2 linked regions of the Homo sapiens genome follow. The protein of the gene in region 1 purifies or fractionates together with the protein of each later gene. This does not show direct contact. Each region holds a gene or a part of one and is shown on either strand. Other genes may lie near its edges.

Region 1 (4,118 bases):
ACTGTGCCCGGCAAAAACTGTTTTTAAACCTGTTAAGGACCTTAAAGATACTTTACATGAACAAGCCAGCCATTTTATATCTGAATAAAAATACATTAACAACTTCTGTACAAAACACAATATAAATGATGAAATCTCTGATTTAAGCGGAAATATTTTCCAACTTTAATTTTGCTAGTTTTATTTCAAATCCAAACTTCTGTTCTCAACTAGATGGCCATTTTATCATTTCAGTTTTTTCTAGTTTATACCTATATCAAAATTAATCTTTTTTTTTTTTTTTGAGACGGAGTCTTGCTCTGTCACCCAGGCTGGAGTGCACTGGCACAATCTCAGCTCACTGCAACCTCTGCCTCTCGGGTTCAAGCGATTCTCCTGCCTCAGCCTCCTGAGTATCTGGGATTACAGGCGCGCGACACCACGCCCAGCTAATTTTTGTATTTTTAGTAGAGACGCAGTTTCACCACGTTGGTCAGGCTGGTCTCGAACTCCTGACCTCATGATCTGCCACCCCGGCCTCCCAAAGAGCTGGGATTACGGGAGTGAGCTACCGCTCCTGGCCGCTTCTATATGAAAAAACACACATCTTCTTGCCATCATCTTTAAATAAGTTAAAAAAAAAAAACCTTCTTACATGGCAAATGTTCAGGGTTGTACTAAAATAATGACCTTATTTGGACACTTTCTAAAGTTTGAATTGGTTTAATTCTGCAAACTGCATTTGTAAAGGTAAGAATTAACTGTCAAGATAGAGCCAGTCTGCTGCTAAGATAAATTCCCTTAATAAACATTTCCATTTTATTTTAAGCAGGGAGCTTTATCTTTAAATACTGTAAAAAATTACATCTCAGAAGCCCTTGTCTATGATAGTTCACAAAGACCAGATATACTCTAAAATGTTAATACTGTTTATCTCTGGGTGGTGGTATTACACGCCATTTTATATTTTACGTTTCTCAAAAAGCATCATTACCTTGCTAATTGACGGTAATACTGTAATTGAACAGTATTTTAAAATTAAATTTTAGATAGCTTATATTATGAAATACCAACACAGTCCACTTCTATGGAAGATTTGTTAAATGATTTTCCCCTATTGATAAACTGCTGCTTTAACAGGAGAATGATCTGATCAGGTGTCTATTAGCTTGGATGAAGACAAAACAGGTTTACTTTCCAGGCCCTTCTTTTCTTTAGGCTTTTGAGAAAATCCCAAAAGTGAGTTTGAACTTAATTACAGCGAATCTTGCAGTAGTAAACTTTTTGGGTGGCCAGAGTAACACCTTTCATTACAACTATCAGCTGAATGGCAAAAGACTTCCCAGGTTTACCAATGTTTTCAGAGACTTACTAGTATTCTCCTCTGTCATTATTTCGGAACAATTCCATTGAGAAACGCAATTGTAAACCGTTTCTATTTCAGGCCTATAAAAACCAGAACTGGGATGAAAGGCAAAGCCTTGACCTTTCTATTTTAGACTTTCATCTGTGTAGCTAAGCCATCTGCTTTCTCCCCACCCCATCCCATCTACTTAATGGACTGAAAATACTGCACCTAATTGCAATTTAATCAAAACAGCCTGACTTTTCCACTTTAATGAATTATGGCTCTTTCACCCGAAGGCTTGCTTGCAAAATTTTGCTTACCCTTCCCTCTCAATTCCTTCCCACTTCCCTCAATTATGGAATGTCAAATGTCTAAACTAAGAGACTAGGCTTCCCTGTGTGAAAACATCTAAAAAGCCCTTCACTTTCAACACTGAGCACCTGACGGAAAATCTACTCCATTCTCTCATCTGGATACGGGGCCGGTATAACCATCATTGTTGCAGTTACGCAGGAGGCACCTCGCAGCTCAGTCTAGAAAGGAGTCGCGTCTCTGCCGCCAAACAACAAGGCACTCAGCCCGGGAAAAGACAGACTGGGGTGGGAGGAAACCTCCCGGAGAAAGAAGGGATCTGGGAAGAAGAGGGAGCTCAAGCCTGGGAGGAAGGACCTTTCCAGGCAGGAAAGGGAAAGGTTGCGTGAAGTGGAGCTAGAAGCTGGGGGCCGAGGTGAAAGGGGATGAGGGGCCCGGGCCCGGCGGGAGGGCGCCGGGGCTCAGGAGAGCGGCTTCAAGGCCGGGTAGGAGGCGTGGGGGCCGAGGCGGGCGTGGGGGCCGAGGCGGGCGTGGGCAGCTCTCAGCCGACCGCCCGGGTCCGAGCAGCGGGGGCGCTTTCAGCGGCGGCAGGCGCGGGTGCGGGGGAGAGGAGCAGAAAAGAGAGCAGTTTGAGGGGCCGAGGGAGCCGCGTCCGAGGCCGGCGCGGTGGGGACCGCGGGCCCACCACCAGCCAAGCCCAGCTACTTAACTATTTGTAGAGCTGCTGCAGGCACAGGTCCAGGCTTTCGCCCTCCACCTCCTCGCGGGTGATGCGCTCTGACAGCGGTCGCGGGAGCGGGGGCAAAGGCGGCAGCTGGGGCGGCGGCGGCGGCACGGCCGAGTGCCCCGGGGCTGCCGCCGCCGTCGCCGCGCCCTCCTCCTCCTCCTCACCCTCAACCGCCGCCTCCTCCTCGGGCTCCGGGTCTTGCTCCTGGTCCCCCTCCTCCGTCGCGGCTACCGTGGCCGCCTCCTCCCCGGGTTCCTCTACCGAAGCCTCGGCCGCCTCAGCTTCTACCAGTTCAGGTTCGGGCTCGGGCTCGGACTCGGGTTCGGGTTCGGGTTCGGGTTCGGGTTCCGGCTCCGGCTCGCCGCCGCCGCACGGTCCGCGAAACTCGCCCAGGAATAGCTCCAGGAAGCGCCGGTAAGTTTTCTCCTCAGGGATGCAGCCGGCCATCGCTGCTCATGCCCCAGGGCAGACCGGGAAAGGGGTTGGGGGAAGCCCAGGAAGGGTAAGGGGCTGCTTTTGAGCCTAGGGCTCCGGCAAGGGCGGTTAACGGCCGCACCGGCACGAGCGATCAGCACTAGGTTGCCTGGAGAGGGCTCCCGCAGGCGTGCGCGCCGCCGAGCACCGACGTGCGCGGCCCGGGGGCGGAGCGCGCCGCCCCTCTCGGATCTGGAGGGAAAGTTGGTGGCGGGCGCGCGCAGGGTCCAGCGGCGGCCCACCCTTTATTCCTACGGAGAGCTCAGCCCACGCTGCCTAGAGACTGTCGCCATGGCAACCGGTTCTAATTAAGCATTGCAGGGTCCCTCCCGTCGAGTCCGCGGAGTCTAAAGGACACTCCACTCGCCCGCTCTCCAACTCTGAATGTCTTTATTGGTTGGATACCCTACCCTCACGTGGTTAAGAGTGAGCTAAGACATCTCCAAGTCTAGCTGTTGGTTCCCACTTGGGTTGCTTGGATCCCAATTGGATGTACTTCCATTTCCTTATCTGTTCCTTGCCTTAGCGTATGTTTTGAAAGATACCACACTGTGAACACCTTTTGTTGCAGTCTTTGAATAAGTAGTTTTCAGGCAGAGGGAGCTTCAAATACCTACCAAGTGATAAGTTCCTTTGCATAGGTTCTCTCTCACTTGATTCTGTGAAGAAAGTGGTGTTACTCTCATTTCTTAAAAGGAAACTGAAAATTATGATATTAATGGTAATTTACTTGTTTCAAGGTCTCCAAACTTCCAGCCTTGGCGTTGGAGAACTCAGGTCGTTCAGTCGCCAAAGCTTTCCGAAAGTGCATTTTTCCTTAACTCAACTCTGTCTCCGGAGATTCAATAGTGCAATTGTCTGTATAACACCTTATTTCTATTGGGCTTCATAGTTTACACATTGATTTCACCCTTTTAATTCTTACCACAGTCCCTTGAGGTATAGGACGTTACCGTTATGATTTTTTTTTTTTTGAGACAATCTCGCTCTTGTCACCCAGGCTGGAGTGCAGTGGCGCGATCTCAGCTCACTGCAACCTCCGCCTCTCGGGTTCAAGTGATTCTCCTGCGTCAGCCTCCCAAGTAGCTGGGATTACAGGGGCCTGCCACCACCCCCGGCTAACTTTTGTATTTTTAGTAGAGACGGGGTTTCACCATATTGGCCAGGCTGGTCTCAAACTCCTGACCTCAGGTGATCTGCCTGCCTCAGCCTCCCAAAGTGCTGGGATTACAGGTGTGACCCACCACGCCGGCCAATTATTCCATTTTATAGGTGAGA
Region 2 (3,591 bases), about 23 Mb from region 1:
AAATGATCTGTGGTAATGTACTGTGCTCGGAGGAACATGATACAATTATTTTCTCCCCTTGTTTTTTTAGAGAAAACCTGAGTGTGTTCTTTTAATTTTTACAGTGATAGAAATATCTGCCGAGCAGAGACCCGGAAAACTTTCCTAAGAGAAAACTTTGAACACATTCAACACATCGTCATTGACGAAGCTCAGAATTTCCGTACTGAAGATGGGGACTGGTATGGGAAGGCAAAAAGCATCACTCGGAGAGCAAAGGGTGGCCCAGGAATTCTCTGGATCTTTCTGGATTACTTTCAGACCAGCCACTTGGATTGCAGTGGCCTCCCTCCTCTCTCAGACCAATATCCAAGAGAAGAGCTCACCAGAATAGTTCGCAATGCAGATCCAATAGCCAAGTACTTACAAAAAGAAATGCAAGTAATTAGAAGTAATCCTTCATTTAACATCCCCACTGGGTGCCTCGAGGTATTTCCTGAAGCCGAATGGTCCCAGGGTGTTCAGGGAACCTTACGAATTAAGAAATACTTGACTGTGGAGCAAATAATGACCTGTGTGGCAGACACGTGCAGGCGCTTCTTTGATAGGGGCTATTCTCCAAAGGATGTTGCTGTGCTTGTCAGCACCGCAAAAGAAGTGGAGCACTATAAGTATGAGCTCTTGAAAGCAATGAGGAAGAAAAGGGTGGTGCAGCTCAGTGATGCATGTGATATGTTGGGTGATCACATTGTGTTGGACAGTGTTCGGCGATTCTCAGGCCTGGAAAGGAGCATAGTGTTTGGGATCCATCCAAGGACAGCTGACCCAGCTATCTTACCCAATGTTCTGATCTGTCTGGCTTCCAGGGCAAAACAACACCTGTATATTTTTCCGTGGGGTGGCCATTAGGAAGAACTCCAAATCAAAATGCTATGTAAATGTCTATGGGTGACAGTCTGCTGATGGTAGAAACCTTTCTTTTTAGTTCACAAGTCAGAGATTTGGACGGAGCTGACACAAAGAGTTTGGAGCTCCCCCATTTCTGGCTCTCCTTTCAGGGGTTCCTTCCCCAACCCTTTCAGCAGCGGTGGCTGCCCCCCATTCTGACCCCTGACTCTTCCAGCCAGAAAGATGGTGGTTTTCTAAAGGAACTTTAGCTGTCCTGCACAATGCCGATCTGTGTCTTGCATTTTGGGTAAAAGCCATAAAAATAAGAAACTCAGCCTGTGGCCTTTCTTTCTTCCAAGGCTGGGCTTCTTTTTTTAAGTGACTTCATGCAGTTTGTTGCTTTTAAAAATTTGTCCAGAATCGTTTTCTGCAGAAGCATGGTCTGTTAGGAGCTTACTGGCCGTAGCAGAAGCAATTGTTTCCTGAATTCTTGACATTTATCTTTGCTGTATTCATTTAGGGCTTGGGAGAGTCCGAAGATAATTCAGTCACTGTCAGATTAATAATTTTGTCAGGACAAAGAATACCGTTATGATTATTTAATCCTTTAAAATTGTGGTCTCCAGAGCTTGTTCTCAGAATGGCCCAGACCAAGCCTTAATTGTGATAGTGAATATTAATGGTCACTTTAAGGAGAAATTATAGGCCAAGATGAAATGAACATAAACCTGTTTGCCCTGGCTTTCAGTGGAAGATGATATTAGAGACCAAAATCTGGTTCTGAAGGTGTGTATCAGCCCTAAGGTGAACCAGACTTGGGAAAGATTGTCTTTAAAAATCAATGAGTTTATGTTTTAACTTCTCAGCTTAGTTCTATGCATTGCTCTATAACACACCTAGTTAAGTTTTATGTTATTCTTGAACTGTGATTTTTTTTCTATTTACTTTCATGGTTTGGTGGGCCATTGTTATGGACTGAATGTTTGTGTCCCACCCTTCACCCCCAAATTCCCGTGTTGAAGCCCCAACCTGCACTGTGGAGCTGGGGCTGCTAAGGAAGTAATTAAGGTTACATGAAGTCATGGTGGGGCTCTGATCTGCTAAGGTTGGTGTCCTTATAGGGAGAGACCCCAGAGAGCTTGTTCCCTCCCTCCCTGTGCATGCAAACAAGAGGGCATGGGAGCACACAGAGAGATGGCAGCCACCTACAAGCCAAGAGGAGAAGCCTCACAATCAAACTCTCGCTGCTGGCGAGAGTCTTGGACTCTGTCTTGGACTTCCAGCCTCCAGACTGTGAGAAACAAATTTCTGTTGTTTCAGCTTCTCAGTCTCTGGTGTTTTGTTATTGCAGCCTGAGAACACAGCTGTACGATTATTTGTCAAACAGAAAACACTGATACTTAACAATGCTAATGCAATTATTTATTTGCTTTTCAGTCTCTACAAAACGTTCTAAAACACTAATCTAAATATTAACAGTAAAATATTTGCATAACTAATGGAAACTAAGAAATCATATGACCAATATTTCACTTATTGGTAATCTTACTCTACTGATTTCCCCCCAGACTGTGATTTTTGAACTTCCTTGCCTTTCTCCTGTCTTTCTGTGTTTATTCATGGAATTCCAGTTATCTGGGCTTGAAATTGCAGGCTCTCCTAACTTAAGCAAAATCTGACAGATCAGCAAAATGAGATAAATGTTTCTTTTTTCTTTCTGACTGCATTAAATCAGATACAACTCAGCATTAAAAAGCTATCTTTGTAAATGTTGTTACTAATAAATTAGTCTTATAAGATCCCTGGACTTTGGAGTTGTTGCAATGTCTTTGAGAGTAATTCTTTAAAAGTCTAATTTCGACTGGTTGTATCTCTTTATGATTTATTGCCCCACTAACAATATTTGAAACAATATAATATTTTAAAATGTATAAATAATTATGAATTTTTGTTTAGAACAAAGAGGATTACTGATATTTGTTTCCCTATGAATGGCAAAAGGTTTAGCTTACTACTGCATTTCTGTTTTAAATAAAAAGTTGAGAGTTTGTGTCTCATTAAACTGAAAAAAATGGTCTTGTAAAATAAGTGCTTAAATGGGGGAAAAGGAGAAGACTGAGGCCAGTGACTCTGTGAGAGGGCCAAAACGAGCCAGTAAAAGATTAAGCAACATTAACTTTCAATTTTTTTTTTAAGAGACAAGATCTCACTATGTTGCCCAGGTTGGAATGCAGTAGTGCAATCATAGCTCACTATAGCCTCGAACTCCTGGGCTCAAGTGATCCTCCTGCCTCAGCCTCCGAAATTGCTGGGATTATAGGCATGAGCCAGTGCACTAGACTCAGTTGGGTTTGGATGGGTGCCTGCCCATCTCTGCAATCTGCCTCTAGACATCTGGGACCTACTTCACTAAAGATCTGAAAATCTACCCAGCCATTATAAAATGAAACAAAATGTTTTTATATTTTAAATTAACTTTTTATTTTAGAGTAGTTATAGAATTACAGAAAAAGTTACAAAGATAGTACAGAAAGTTCCTGTGTCCCCTTCATTTAGTTTCCTCTTTATTTTATTTTATTTTATTTTATTTTATTTTATTTTATTTTATTTTATTTTATTTTGACAAGGTCTTGCTCTCTCACCCAGGTTGGAGTACAGTTGGGTGATCACAGCTCACTGCAGCCTTTAACTCCTGGACTCCAGTGATCCTCTCACCCCAACTAG

Evidence for each region. The genes of interacting proteins can lie anywhere in the genome.
Region 2: the proteins of PPM1E (region 1) and SLFN11 purify together in Homo sapiens (affinity purification with mass spectrometry; one large-scale study listed by BioGRID and IntAct). This does not show direct contact.

What each region holds. Positions count from the first base shown.
Region 1 is NC_000017.11:58,754,693-58,758,810, reverse strand, and holds the start of PPM1E (protein phosphatase 1E), read right to left. Parts: upstream 2,958-4,118; 5' UTR 2,814-2,957; coding exon 2,350-2,813; intron 1-2,349. UniProt on the Homo sapiens protein: Protein phosphatase that inactivates multifunctional CaM kinases such as CAMK4 and CAMK2. Dephosphorylates and inactivates PAK. May play a role in the inhibition of actin fiber stress breakdown and in morphological changes driven by TNK2/CDC42.
Region 2 is NC_000017.11:35,349,653-35,353,243, reverse strand, and holds the end of SLFN11 (schlafen family member 11), read left to right. Parts: intron 1-104; coding exon 105-888; 3' UTR 889-2,939; downstream 2,940-3,591. UniProt on the Homo sapiens protein: Inhibitor of DNA replication that promotes cell death in response to DNA damage. Acts as a guardian of the genome by killing cells with defective replication.